4 linked regions of the Homo sapiens genome follow. The protein of the gene in region 2 purifies or fractionates together with the protein of the main gene of each other region. This does not show direct contact. Each region holds a gene or a part of one and is shown on either strand. Other genes may lie near its edges. The genes, in order: ANKRD52, BRSK1, PPP6R3 and ANKRD28.

The links.
Region 1: the proteins of BRSK1 (region 2) and ANKRD52 purify together in Homo sapiens (affinity purification with mass spectrometry; one large-scale study listed by BioGRID and IntAct). This does not show direct contact.
Region 3: the proteins of BRSK1 (region 2) and PPP6R3 purify together in Homo sapiens (affinity purification with mass spectrometry, with the first as the bait; one large-scale study listed by BioGRID). This does not show direct contact.
Region 4: the proteins of BRSK1 (region 2) and ANKRD28 purify together in Homo sapiens (affinity purification with mass spectrometry; one large-scale study listed by BioGRID and IntAct). This does not show direct contact.

What each region holds. Positions count from the first base shown.
Region 1 is NC_000012.12:56,241,331-56,244,897, forward strand, and holds part of ANKRD52 (serine/threonine-protein phosphatase 6 regulatory ankyrin repeat subunit C), read right to left. Parts: intron 3,468-3,567; coding exon 3,322-3,467; intron 3,106-3,321; coding exon 3,023-3,105; intron 2,804-3,022; coding exon 2,721-2,803; intron 2,547-2,720; coding exon 2,455-2,546; intron 2,063-2,454; coding exon 1,812-2,062; 3' UTR 1-1,811. UniProt on the Homo sapiens protein: Putative regulatory subunit of protein phosphatase 6 (PP6) that may be involved in the recognition of phosphoprotein substrates.
Region 2 is NC_000019.10:55,286,972-55,290,538, forward strand, and holds part of BRSK1 (serine/threonine-protein kinase BRSK1), read left to right. Parts: intron 1-35; coding exon 36-130; intron 131-242; coding exon 243-328; intron 329-2,508; coding exon 2,509-2,649; intron 2,650-3,567. UniProt on the Homo sapiens protein: Serine/threonine-protein kinase that plays a key role in polarization of neurons and centrosome duplication. Phosphorylates CDC25B, CDC25C, MAPT/TAU, RIMS1, TUBG1, TUBG2 and WEE1.
Region 3 is NC_000011.10:68,467,251-68,470,817, reverse strand, and holds part of PPP6R3 (serine/threonine-protein phosphatase 6 regulatory subunit 3), read right to left. Parts: intron 1-3,567.
Region 4 is NC_000003.12:15,686,463-15,690,029, reverse strand, and holds part of ANKRD28 (serine/threonine-protein phosphatase 6 regulatory ankyrin repeat subunit A), read left to right. Parts: coding exon 1-11; intron 12-141; exon of another isoform or gene 142-1,683; coding exon of another isoform or gene 1,684-1,719; intron 1,720-3,567. UniProt on the Homo sapiens protein: Regulatory subunit of protein phosphatase 6 (PP6) that may be involved in the recognition of phosphoprotein substrates. Involved in the PP6-mediated dephosphorylation of NFKBIE opposing its degradation in response to TNF-alpha.

The sequences.
Region 1 (3,567 bases), on a different chromosome or scaffold from region 2:
GGACAACACCCCAGGCTTCTGGAAACCAGCATGAGGTATGGTTAAAGGTATCCGTTGGGGAGGGAGGGGGTCCCTGGGACGCCCCCCTCCCCTCAGCCCACCCTTGACAAGGGTGGCAAGACATTCAGGGTATACAACTAAAAGATGGGTAAGACTGTGAATAAAGCAAACTTGAGTAGGGGAGGGAGGCTGAAGGATCCCCCCTCAGGGGAGACCCTGTACTGTGTAAACGAAGCCTGTCCAGTTCTCAGGGGACAATACTGATGGCAGCCAAACTGGGCAAGGATGCAGTGTGGGGGCGGAGGGGGCATGACCTCTATTCAAGTTCTGTGTCTTGGCCCCTGGCTGAGGTATTGAGTGTGAGGAAGGGAACACTGGGCTGCAGGAGTGGGTCCAACTGTCCAGGAGGCTGCACTAGGAGATGGGTGGACAGAGCACTTAAAGGGACCAGGGCCAAATTCAATGCTACATTTAGAGAGAAAACTGCCCCCTCTTCACTCCAGCCCAGTTTGGCTTTTGGGGTGCGACTTTAGAAATCTTATCAGTGCAGCCCCCAGCTCAATCCCATCTTTCCTCCCTGCTGGGAAGGCAGGGACCAAGCCCCAGTACCTATTCATCTCTCTCTAGGTCAGAGCTTCTTCCTCACACTGGAGGGGAAGCCTGGGTCCCGAGTAGCCACGGTCCCTTGTCGGCCCTGCCCCTCCTACCATCTTTGGCTTCAGATCAGGAGTGACTGGGGCAGTGGGTACTCTTGGACATAACGGAAGGTGGAGGCAGATAGGGAGCACAGATAAACTATGGGCTTGGCGGCACAGGAGGAAGAACATGGTCCCTCCCTCCATATACATGCAAACACATGCCTGAAACACAGTGGACATACTAGGGCTGTGGTTTTGAAATGGGCAGGAAATTAATTTGTTTCTTCCCCTAAAGGATAAAACGCTTACTTAAAAATTCATGACAAGCCTCAAAGTTCAAGGGAAGGAGAGCCAGGGCAGGAATGACCACAGGCTCTGCCCTCCCAAAAGAAGATAAAAGAAAGAAGCAAGGTTAAAGTGCGTGGTTAGGGGCCAGGCTAGGAGTGGGAGGGAATGGGGAGGGGGCAGGCTGTGGGGGCAGAACCAGCCCTTGATTTGCATATGAGGAGCCAGGGGAGAGTGCAGGATTGGGGCCCAGGTACAGTAGTTGCTGCTTCAAGTGTTTTGCATTTGAACTTTAGGGGTGATAGGGTACAGAAGTGGGGAAAAAGCTCCAGGCCCCAGTGCTAAATATCCTCCCCCCTCATCCTCTAGCTGCCCCTGAAGGGGGGAGGGGGACACCCCCAGAGTGCTCACACAGTACCAGAAATTAAGGCTTCTCACTGCTGCGGGGATGGAGGGACCGGCCGAGCAGGGAGGCAGTGATGGGTATGGAAGAAGAGGGGATCTGCCTGGCAGTAGGGGCAGGGGAGAAGGGGGACACAGAGAGGAGTCCCCAGGGAAGAGTCGGGGGAGCTGGCAGCAGAAAGAGGGAACCAAGAGATGGAGTCAAAGAGTGGGGGAGCCAGGCATTTAGCAATCATTTTGGGACACTTGGCAGAAGGGGTCGCCCTGGGGGTACCAAGGGCCTGGGGTGCTCCCTGTCAGTCCCAGACCCCTGCCAGGCCAAGATGGTGTGGCAAAGGGGTGAGCAGCTGCTCCCCAGGGCTTCCTTCCCCTCCGCCCCCTCCACCCAGTCGTGTTCTCCTTTAAAGTGCCCTAAATGTTTAGACTTTTTCTAAATAAATAGAATTAGATATCAAGCCACCGGCGGGGGAGGGACACTGGAGGGGGCTACTCAGAGTAGCAGCCATCTAACCCAATGGCGCCGGGCCGCTCCTGGCTGTAGGGGCAGGAGGCCCCATGGGGCAGGGCGCCGCAGCCACCCACCGTCTTGGCGGCTGCAATGCTGCAGTTCTTGAGCAGGCTGAAGCTGAAAGGACTGACGGCGTCCTTGGGTGGGAAAGGCTTCATGGTGGAAAGGATCAAGGCCAGGCAGTCTGCCACATCTTTGTTGGGGGCACAGGCCAGTGCTGGGGTGTGACCTGCAGGGCCAAGGGGGAGAACTGAGGCATAGAGTCCTGTATCCTAGCCAGCCTCCCCCAAGCCCTGAAGTCTCTTCTCTGTGGAGGGAGCCAAGGCAGGCAGGTACCCAGCAGCGGCAGAATCCAAGGGTGACGAGGGCCCAGGAAGGCTGACAGGCAGATTCTCTAAGTACGGGTTAAAGGGCGGGCATGGGAGTCAAAGCCTAGGGTGTGGAGTCCTCCTGACCCTGCAGGCTCCCCTCTGAGACTCCAGAGTACTGGTGTGGGCTCCCTGCTCTGAAGAGTTCCCTTGGGAAGAAAATCCCATGTATAGCAAGATTAAGAAGTCACCTCCTGAAGAATGTCCCTGACCCCAAACCCAAGAGAGGCATGGGGCCCCAGACCCCACCCACCTTCTTCATCCACAGCCAGCACTGTGGCCCCATGACTCAGCAGGGCCTGTACCACAGAAGCTAGACCATTCCGGGCAGCAATGTGGAGTGGCCTTGGAAAAAAGGAAAAAGAAGGAGCTTGATGCTAAGCTGCCCTTCCACCTCCAGACAGGGTGGCAAGGGTGCTGAACAAATACAATGGGCTCCAGAGAGCCTCTGAACAGCGGCCACTCTTTCATCACCCACTGGCCTCCCCCAGCCAGGAGCCCCCTTCCCCAGGCACTCACATCTGCAGCGCACTGTTGGTAGCATTGATAAGGCCAAGGTCTTGGGTTTCTGCCAGGATCATGAGGGCACATTTCTCATGGCCCTGAGGGAGGGGAACAGAGAGTGGAGACTTGTGAAGTAGAAATGTGGCAGGGTGCAGGGCAGGAGTTGGGGAGAGTAACAGGAGGACAAACAGCTGCCCAACCAGTCGGATAGGCTGGACAATCCTCACTTCTGCCCCAGTCCCCTCTGCAACCGAGACTTACCTCTCTTCATCAAGCTCTGCCCCTTATGCAGTCCCCCAATCACTTCAGGTAAGTACCTTGCTACAAGCCAAGTGGAGGGCCGTGTTCTTGTTCTCATCCAACACAGTAAGGTCTGCCTTCCCTCGATACAGCAGAAATTCTACGAGAGAAATGTGATAGAGGGACTGACCCCTCCCTCCAGAGCAGTAGCCATCCTGGCTCTCCACTTTGCATCCCGTCTGCAGATGGCGAGACATCCAAAGACAACCCTCTTGCTTTCTGAACCCCAGCCCCAGCCAGCCTCCACAGGCAGGGCTGACCCATCCTGCAAATGCCCCAGGGGAGCTCCTCCCTTCCACAAGTGGCCCCTACACACCCACAGCAGCGGTCTGCCCGTTCTCAGCCGCCGTCATGAGCGCAGTGCGGCCAGTGTGGTCAGTGGCGTTCACCTCAGCTTGATGCTGCAGCAGCATCCGGAGCCCAGAGACATTGTCCGCGAAGGCAGCGGCGTGAAGGGGGGTCCTGTAAGGCAGGGATCAGGGTAGATTAAAATAGGGAAGAGTATACTGCCCAAGCAGAAAGGGGAAGCCAGAGGCAACTGGGATTCTTCCCAAGTCTTCCA
Region 2 (3,567 bases):
GCGGAACACCCCACATTTTCACCCTGCTCCTGCAGGGCTGGTTAAACTCGGGGTCCACTGCATCACGGGTCAGAAGGTCGCCATCAAGATCGTGAACCGGGAGAAGCTGTCGGAGTCGGTGCTGATGAAGGTGTGTGCGCCTGCTGCAGTGTGCCTGCGGGTGGGGGGGCCTCCGGGGCTGAGGGCAGGGGCGGGGCCGTGCTGACCTCTTTTCCCGTGTCCCCACCCCTCTTGACCCTCAGGTGGAGCGGGAGATCGCCATCCTGAAGCTCATCGAACACCCACATGTCCTCAAGCTCCACGACGTCTACGAGAACAAGAAATATTTGTAGGTATTTATAGACACCCAGCCCTACCCCATCCTCCCTCTCCAGGTTACCAGGGTGGGACTTCTCCAGAAACAGGGCCTAGGGGGACCTGGGGGACCTGCAGCTCTCCAGGCTGGACCGCTGAAGGCCCAGTTCCTTGCCTGTTGCACAGGGAAGCCCCTGACACACAGGGAACCCCACTGTTGTCACGCTGTGTTGGGCCTGAGGCCAAGGGCAACCATCCTCCTACCGTGTCCCCAGCTCCAGCTCCTCGCCCTGTGGCACTGCATGGAATGCGCTCTGCTAGACAAGCAGGGTGCCCTCGACCAGACCCAATCTGCTATGGGCAGATGCCTCCTGTTTGTAAGGCAAGGGGCCTAGCAAAGCCCAAAGGATCTTCCCAAACCCCAACTCTGGAGCACTGGAGAGCCCCCCTCCTCCCCCGGCATAACTTCGGGTGCCGTGGCTGGACACCCCAACAATGGGCCGCCTTAGGAGGTCTGAGTCACTATCTCAAAGTCAATCACCCGCCAGGAAGGATGGGGGTGGGGGTCCAGCTGTCCAGACTCCAGAGAATGGGCCTCTTTGTCCAAACTCTGGTGACCCAAAGGACAGCTGGGCTGGGAAGCCGGAGAGGGGACAGCCCTCGTGTTCCCCCCCGGCACCCAGTCCCCCGGATGAACTGACATCAGGTCCGTCGATGCTGGCGCAGGTTTCACCACACGGGAAGCTGTCTGCCCGGCGCTCATGGGACCTGCTCTCAGGCTTTCCCAGGTGTGGTGGTAGGGAGGGGCTATTGTCCGGACCGGTGCATGGTCGCTCCCACTCCACTCTTGGCGTAGGGAGGCAGGGCCATGGGAGTTTATGCTTCGGGCAGGAATCCCAGCCATCTAAGAGCTCATAGAAATTGAGCTTTTGGGGCCAGGCGCGGTGGCTCATGCCTGTAATCTCAACACTTTGGGAGGCCAAGATGGGCGGATTTCTTGAAGAGCTCGAGACCAGCCTGAGCAACATGGCAAAACCCCGTCTCTACAAAAAATACAAAAATTAGCTGAGTGTGGTGGTACACCTGTAGTCCTACCTACTTGGGAGGCTGAGGTGGGAGAATTGCTTGAACCTGGGAGGCAGAGGCTGCAGTGAGCCAAGATCGTGCCACTGCATTCCAGCGTGGGCGACAGAGCAAGACTCTGTCTCAAAAAAAAAAAAAAAAAAACTCCAAACAACAACAACAACAAAAAAAAATGGTTGATGGAAACTGGAACCCCGTGTCCCAGAGGCTTATGGGAAGGGAGTTTGGGGGTTTTTTTGTTGTTTTGTTTTTTTGAGACAGAGTTTTGCTCTTGTTGCCCAGGCTGGAGTGCAATGGCTCGATCTCGGCTCACCACAACCTCCACCTCCTGGGTTCAAGTGATTCTCCTGCGTCAGCCTCCCGAGTGGCTGGGATTACAGGCACGCACCACCACGCCCAGCTAATTTTGTATTTTTAGTAGAGACGGGGTTTCACCATGTTGGTCAGGCTGGTCTTGAACTCCTGATCTCAAGTGATCCACCCACTTCGGCCTCCCAAAGTGCTGGGATTACAGGCATAAGCCACCGTGTCTGGCCAGAAGTGGGGGTTTTTAACTTCTAGGCGCTGATGGGAGTTGTCGTCTATTGCCTCACAGAAGCTGGCTTGGACTGGTGCAACCTTGCAATCGTTAATACTCGAAAATGAATTCAAATTTGAGTTTCCTCACTCCAGAGGGAATTAGAGGCTTGGCTTTCTAGGGGCTAATAGGAGTAGGGGTATCTTCACTTCCCAGGGTCCTATAAGAATTGGGGTCTTTGACCTTCAGGTGCTAATAGAGTCGCCTTATCTCCTGAAACCATTATGAGTCAAAGTGTTGGTTCCCCTCTGAAGCTGACATGGGAGGCTCTACTGCCCAGGGCTAATGGGACTTGAGTTTGGTTTCCTAGAGGCTGGTGGAAACTGGAGTCACTTCCTCCCAGGGAGTGATGGGAACTGGAATCTCTTCCTCCCAGGAATTAATGGAAACTGGAGTCTCTTCCTCCCAGGGACCCATGGGAATTGGAGTCTCTTTCTCCCAAGGATCATGGGAATTGGAGTTCTCTGCCACCAGGAGCCAGTGGAAGTGGGAGACCAGGCCCTTTGGTCCTCCACATGCCCCTTCCAGCCCTCTGCCCCCTCTATATCCTTTAGGTACCTGGTTCTGGAGCACGTCTCGGGGGGTGAGCTATTCGACTACCTGGTAAAGAAGGGGAGACTGACGCCCAAGGAGGCCCGAAAGTTCTTCCGCCAGATTGTGTCTGCGCTGGACTTCTGCCACAGCTACTCCATCTGGTGAGTGGGCAGCTTGAGGGGGAGGAGGGGCTGAGGGCTGCCCAGCAGACAGGCCCTTGGGGGCATGTGGAGGGCTGAGCAAAAGCCATGTGGTCGGCCCCCAAACCTTTATCCCATTGAGACATAACTCATACACCAGAAAATTCCTCCTTTTAGAGTGTGTAATTCAGTGGTTTTTGATATATTTGCAGTGGTATACATCTGCCACTGTGGAATTTTAGAACATTTTCTCACCCTGTACCCATTAAGTAAGCAGTCACTCCCCATTCCCCTCCTGCCCCCAGCCCCCGGCAACCTATGTTCTGTCTGTATGGATTTACCTATTCTAGACGTTTTATATAAATGGAATCATACGATACATGGCCCTTTTTGTATTGTTTTGTTTTGTTTTTGAGATGGAGTTTTGCTCTTGTTGCCCAGCAGGAGTGCAATGGTGTGATCTTGGCTCACTACAACCTCTGCCTCCCAGGTTCAATTGATTCTCCTGCCTCAGCCTCCGGAGTAGCTGGGATTACAGGTGCACACCACTACACCTGGCTAATTTTGTATTTTTTTAGTAAAGTCGGGGTTTCACCATGTTGGCCAGGCTGGTCTCGAACTCTTGACCTCAGGTGATCTGCCCGCCTAGGCCTCCTAAAGTGCTAGGATTACAGGCGTGAGCCACCACTCCCGGCCTCTTTGCCCATCTTTAATTCAGTTATTTTTTAAAATTTGATTTAGTCTTTTTATTATTGATTTGTAACAATTTTTTATTCTAGGAACAAGAGATTACTCTAGGAACAAAATTATTCCTAAAAATTATTCTGTATGATGACAGCAAGAACAAGGGGGAAAATTTAACAAAGAAAAAAAGAATTGTTTATTCTAGATGCAAGTCTTTCATCAGTATACATTTTTAAATTATTTTCTCCAAGTCTG
Region 3 (3,567 bases), on a different chromosome or scaffold from region 2:
CCCACCAGCTACAAAAATCCCTGGTATCATCCTTTACTCCTCTCTCACACCCACTCCAATCTGCCAGCAAATCCTGTCTGCTCTTCCTTTTCAAGAAGGATCCAGCAGCCAACCTCTTCTCACTCCCACCCCTGCTCCCCTTCAGTCCCAGCTGCCATTACTGCTCTCCTGGATCACTGCCAGAGCGTCCAACCTCCCTCCAGCAGCACAGGACAGTGGGACCTTTAGAAACCACATCATGTGACACCTCTGCTCAAAACACCAAATGACTTACCCATCTCACTCAGAGAAAAAGACAAAATCTTAACAATGGCCAGTGTGACCTACGCCCTCCCCCCATCTCCCCCATCCATCTGGCCTACCCTCCTCCCACTCTCCCTCAGGCTCCTCACTCCAGCCACACTGGCCTCCGCTGCCCCTCCAACACAGCAGACATGCCTCCTTCTTAGCACCTTGTCCTGCTGACCCTCCGCCTATAATGCTGCCCCTACCCCACTGCCACCCACAGCCTTGTGGCTGGGTCCCTCCACTCCTTCTGTTGACTGCTGTATTTCAATCTGCAGACAAGCACTCCCCCACACCCCACCTCTCCTGGTTTACTTTTCTCCCTGTTTGTATTACCATATGGCTACTGTATCTTTCATTTATCTGTTAACTGTCTTTCCCCTACCAAAATGTAAGCTCCATGAAAACAAGGACTTTTCATCTGCTTTGCTTACTGTTAACATGCCCAGCAGTAGAACAGTGTTTAAGACATGGTAAGTACTCAAACATCTGAATAAAAGGATCACAGAAACAATGTTGAGTGGGGGCAAAAAAAGAACAAAGTGACTCCATTTACATTGTCTAAAGGAATGCAAAAATGAAGTCACATTATATAAGGATACATTTATACTTTGCAACACCATAAAGTAAAGCAGAAAAATGATACATACAAGGTATTTGCCTTGGGGAGGTCAGAAAGAGGGAAGTGGTGAGACGAGGACACAGGGAGCCAAAGGTATGGCAACCTTCTATTTCCTAAGCTGGTTAGTGGGTACACAAGTGTCAGTTCTAATGTTTAATATCTGGGCACATGCTGATATATACTCTTTGAATTCATAGTCCAATTACAAGTTAAAATAAAAAAACAGATTAGAGGCCAGGCATGGTAGTTCACACCTGTTATCTCAGCACTTTGGGAAAACAAGGTGGGAGGACTGCTTGAGCCCAGGAGTTCAAGACCAGCCTGGGCAACATCGGAAGATCTTGTCTCTACAAGAAAAAAAAAAAAAAAATTACCTGGGTGTAGTAGCATGTGCCTACAGTCCCAGCTACTCGGGAGGCTGAGGTGAGAGAATCGTTTCAGCCAGGGAGGTCAGTCAAGGCTGCAGTGAGCTATACTGCACTCCAGCCTGGGACTCTATCTCAAAAAAATAAACAAAAACCACTGCACTCTAGCCTGGGATTACACCACTGCACTCCAGATTACACCACTGCACTCTAGCCTGGGACTCTATCTCAAAAAGATAAACAAAGACAAAACAGATTAGAGCAGGCATTGACAAACTACAACCCACAGGCCAAATCCAACTCTCTGTCTGCTTTTATAAGTAAAGTCCTATTGGAAGACAGCCACCTTCATTTGTTTACAGATTGGCTATGGCTGCTTTCACACTACAAAAGCAGAGATGAGTCCTTGCAGAGACCATTTAGCCTCCAATGCCTAAAATATTTACTAACTGGTCCTTTACAGAAAAAATCTGCAAACCCTCAATAGAGCTGTCTGGTTATAATGCAGAATTTGTAAAGAAATTAAGTGCAAAATCAAAAAGATCCAATCATCTGTTAACATATATTGATCCTTCAAGGCGTATGTGATTATCCACACTATGTTGAAAAAATGATTCTATATAAAATGTGAGACTCCACAGCAAAGTTACCCTACAACGTCCTGTGTGCCAGAAAAGAATAAACTTAAAAGATGTTTTAGAAAGCAAACTGCAAACCTCAAATTTATGATCTCTACTCCACCAGCAGAAATTATGTTATATATGTTCTAATGTTATATTCATATTCACAGTTATATACATTAAAACATATATAACATACTCCAAATTTGGAGGAAGAAAATTTGCATATCAACACTAACTCTGTAACCTCCCCAACACTGAAACCACCATCACCCTGACTTCCGCAGAGCAGCTGGTTAGACCTCGAGGCCTCTCTATGATCCTATAATACTCCATTTCTCTCCTTGAGATCATTCACTGCACCTTGGAGGTGTTTCTGTACTTTTGTTACAAAATACCATACCTATGATGGGAGGATCTCATAGCTGCTGAGTCCATCTAAGGGTGTAATAACAAGAAGTCCACAGTGAAAAGGGACAGTCATTCACAGAGTGTTGTTTACTCAGAAGGGGCAGGGTCTCACTTGCAGACAAAAGAGACAGATGAGACCTGTCCATTGTCCAAAGGCAATACAAACCCTGTGTATCTCTATGTCAACAAAAAAGAACTCCTCAACTACTATACAGTGACAAAAAACTGACACATACTACTACCAAAAATAAAATTCCAGACGTTAACCACTTATTCTGAATTCTAAGTAAAATCCAGCTGTGATGTCACTCTTGAAACAAATAGCACTTAAAACTGTGGTCTGGAACATCACAATCCTATGGAATCACCGGGGCTGAGATTTCTCTGCTCCTTCTGGTTCCATTCTTCTGCATGGCCTCCATTTTTCTGTAAGAATAAATGCGCTGGGCGTGGTGGCTCATGCCTGTAATTTCAACACTTTGGGAGGCCAAGACGGGCGGATCACTAGAGGTCAGGAGTTTGAGACCAGCCTGGCCAACATGGTGAAACTCCATCTCTACTAAAAATAAAAAATTAGCTGGGTGTGATGGCACACGCCTGTAGTCCCAGCTACTCGGGAGGCTGAGGCAGGAGAATCGCTTCAACCTGTAAGGCGGAGGTTGCAGTGAGCCGAGATCGCGCCACTACACTCCAGCCTGGGCGACAGACTGAGAGTCCATCTCAAAAAAATAAATAAATAGAAAATAAATGACGTCTAAGTGTTGTTGCAGCCCAAAACCATGATTCTCACGAATGGAAGCCTCAGTCAATTGTCAAGACTAGTCAGTGTTCCTCCCGCTACGCCCATCTGAGGACCAAAGCCCAACCAATCTGACCAGCCAACCATGGAGCAGGCAGTGTGAACTGCCCTGATTAGGGTCTCAGTGTGACATGTGTTCTCAGGCAAGCTCTTTTTTCTCAAAGTGTGTCTCTGCCACCAGAATTTTTGTTCAGATTTACATGTAGGTATAGGAAACCCAAGGCTCCAACTAACAGTCCCACACAGCTTTCTCCAAGTCTGTCTGACTCAACATCAGTCTGCAGCCGTTTTAGTCCTGCTCTCTAATGTTCCTAAAAACAATCTTTCATTCATCTTTTCTTGGGCCATCAGATTTCACGGTAGTCAATCTCTGGGGAATTCAAATCACTTCAAGTCACTATGTATTTCCACTGTAAGAAATTCTGGAACTAATAATCCCGTGGTTTTCCCCAGAGTTACTGTGAA
Region 4 (3,567 bases), on a different chromosome or scaffold from region 2:
TCATGCAGCAGGTATGCCAGATATTATGCTTGATTTATTTATAACTTCTATCCAATACTTTTTTTCAATTTCTGATATATAATATTTCCAGTTAATTGTCTTTAAAATTTTGACCTTTTTTTTTTTCAAATCATATATGGATTATTTGACCTCACCAAATAACTTTATTCACACAAATGAATTTACAAAGCCTCCGTCATTCATAAACATTAGGAGTATCCCAGTGTTCAGGGAACTTAAATACAGTGTATTATATCAACCCAAGTAAACCAAGCACAAAAAATATTCATATAAAGTTGTTTACATGTAGGTCCTAGACTACCAGCTTCTGTGTGAAAAAGGAAATAAAAATAGATTTATTAACTAGTGTTTGAAACTAACTTTGTGCCTGGCTTAAAACCTCCCTCATGCTCCAGCCTGTCCCACACAAGTGTTTAAGAAGTCATTAAAACTGTCCTGCTCTCATGAAAAGAAGCTCCTCTGCACAAAAGATGTAAGTGCCCCCAAGTAGCTCCCTTCCTCCTGTGGCCTCTCTTGGAAAACAACCTTGGCAGCCTCCTTGCTGATACCTTCTGCAATTTTAGGGGCCCCTCAGGGGGCAGTGGCAGTGGATTCATCTTTTGATGATGGCTGCAGATGCTAACATTGGCCAATTCTATGTCACACCTACTGGTTACTCTTTGAAGGCATTTCTCCAGACAGAAGCCCCACTACCGTCAAAGCTTAGGTAGGGCAGGATCAGAGAGGCGCCTGTGTTGTTTTGAAGGTTGTGCTACAGCCTGGACTTATCTCTGGACTTCTCCCTCTAAAACCCAGTGGCCCAAAGAGCTGAAAAATGTCAGCTTGGCTCTTCAAAAGTTTCCAGACCCAAGGAGATTACCAAGAGCTACAACTGTCTGGGGAAATTTTTGACTTTAAGTGGTAAAATGATTGTATTCTCAGGGAATACCAACAACAAGACTATCATCACTTAAAACATTATCTGCCTTAGAAGTTGGGTTTATGTAATAATCTAACTTCTGAAACACTTTATCAACAAAACAATGCAGTATTTATTTCTTTCTGGTAGAAGTTATTTTGGATTGGTATAATCTTTCATTTAACAAGTGATACACGTTTTGACTTATTTTACCAGTGTACTGCATTAAACATTTATGCAGACAGGCTTTACAGAGCACTTTATGCAAGAACTATTCCATATTGTGATATTATGATGTAGCAGATACGTTAAAATACGAAGGTCTATAACCAAGTCAGTTAAATGACTTGCTACCCACTGCGTATCACTGGCAGATGCAGATTCACAACTCTCTATTTTTATAGAGTGATCCTTAAGAATACATTTGAATATATGTCTTGGATTTTTTTTCTAGTCCTTTGGGAAGCTTACATTTTAGAAGACTATTGATAACACCCACTGTTACTCCCAGAGCCGCCCTTCAAAGCTATCAGATGTTCAAGTGGGGCTGAGAAAAATATTTTAATAATACATTAGAACCTCTAATAAACATATATACACTACTATATGGTTTGAACAAGAGGTTAAAATGCATTACTTGCTGTTACCTTATTCTGAAAAAGAGTGAAGTTATATATCACTTTGCAAAGCCAAACTTGGTGGCGCATGCCTGTATTCCCACCTAACTTGGGAGGCTGAGGCAAGAGGGTCACTTGAGTTCAGTTTCATTGCACTCTAGGCAACATGATGAAACCCTGTTCCTAAAATATAAAATAAAAATCAATTTTGTACACTGGATGGGATCTGTGAAAAATAAGTACATTTTAAAAATATTAATCTATAGCTAGAAAAATTATAATTGCAGATCATATGCAGAACTAATTTAAAGCTTGCATGGAGTGGTTGCACTCTCAATAGGTAAATATTGAACTGAGACATTAGCCAGTCCCTTAGAAGTAGTTAACCAATGCCATATAGTTCAGCATAAATCCTACCCACAAAAAGAACCACAGGTTACTCTTAGTGCCTATCTATTCAATAAATGCAAGCCTTGTATCTATAGATGCCTTTCAAATTTGGAGGTCTATAGAGAGCATCTATAAGCCATGAAAAGAACACTGAGGGTTTTTTTTCCTGGAGGTTTACCAGTCATTTCCCACAGAGATGCTGTGCTTGCTGTTTGGGTATTGAACTTAGATGACACAAACATTCATCAGTAGCGACTGTGAACTGAGTGTAAATGAACTGATTTGAAAAATGATGGGCCAAACAAGTTCTTCTTGAACATCCCCAAGTGTTACGACCCTGTTTTTTGTTGCTAAGCTGTGAGAGCTGCTGGCAGAGTGCAGCATACAGATTGGACTAGGGTAGGAGAGGTGATTTAAGCCACAAGTTTAATAACTATTAGTATTTAATATAACTGTGGGAACATACTGTGGAATATTCAGCACCTAGCTTGCTTTTGCTAGTTTTGTCATCTTTTAATTAGAAGAAATAGTGATAGACGTTCTTTTCTGTATCATATGCAAGATACATTTTTTTCTAATGTATTTCTTTAAACTTCAGACTTTGTATATATTAACAGGACCTGAATTTTGCAGAGGATTTAACTTACTTCAAAAGCTCTTTTCTTTGGACTACTTCTACTTGTACCCTTGCCCATTTTATGCATTTGGACTTAACACATGCATTCTTTAGATGGATCATTTTTCTTGTACTGTATGTATATATATATATATCATTTGAAATTATTTCAGCCATAAATAACAGAGTACCCTACTGAAAATAGCTTAAGGGGTTTAGTGTCTCATATACAATGTCGAAAGGCAGGCTGGGCACGGTGGCTCATGCCTGTAATCCCAGCACTTTGGGAGGCCGAGGTGGGTGGATCATGAGGTCAGGAGTTCAAGACCAGCCATGCCTAGATGGTGAAACCTCATCTCTCCTAAAAATACAAAAAAAATCGCCGGGTGTGGTGGCAGGCGCCTGTAATCCCAGCTACTTGGGAGGCTGAGGCAGAGAATTGCTTGAACCCAGGAGGCGGAAGTTGCAGTGAGCCAAGATCACACCACTACACTCCAGCCTGGGCGACAGAGCGAGATTCTGTCTCAAAAAAAAAAAAAAAGCAATATCAGGCAGATGCAGTTCCAGGGTTGGTTGATTCTACAACGGTGTCAGAGCTCTGGATTAAATTCTGTTATTCTCTTACATTTGCATTCATGTTGTGGGATTATTGCTGCTGCTTTTAAGGATTGCATCTAAAATCAGGAAGGAATGGGGGCTTTTCATTATTAAAGATAAAAGTATTTCCCAGCAGCCTCTAGACTTATCGGCATCTCAGTAGTCAGACCTGGTTCCTGTGCTGCTCACCTTAAAACTGATCACTGTCAGAGGAGAATGGGGTTCTTGTGATTGACTTGGTCTAATCATGGTATCATCCCTTTGCTGGAGTCAAGGCACTCTTCCTGACCACATTGCCAGAGAGCTAAATAAAATGAGCATTCTTTTAGAGGCAGATGATAGGGCATGGGTGCTGGGTAGGCGGTCTGCCTGTCATGTTTTACTGTGAGGAATTCACATTTATTCCAGCTTTAACAGTCAAAGGCCGT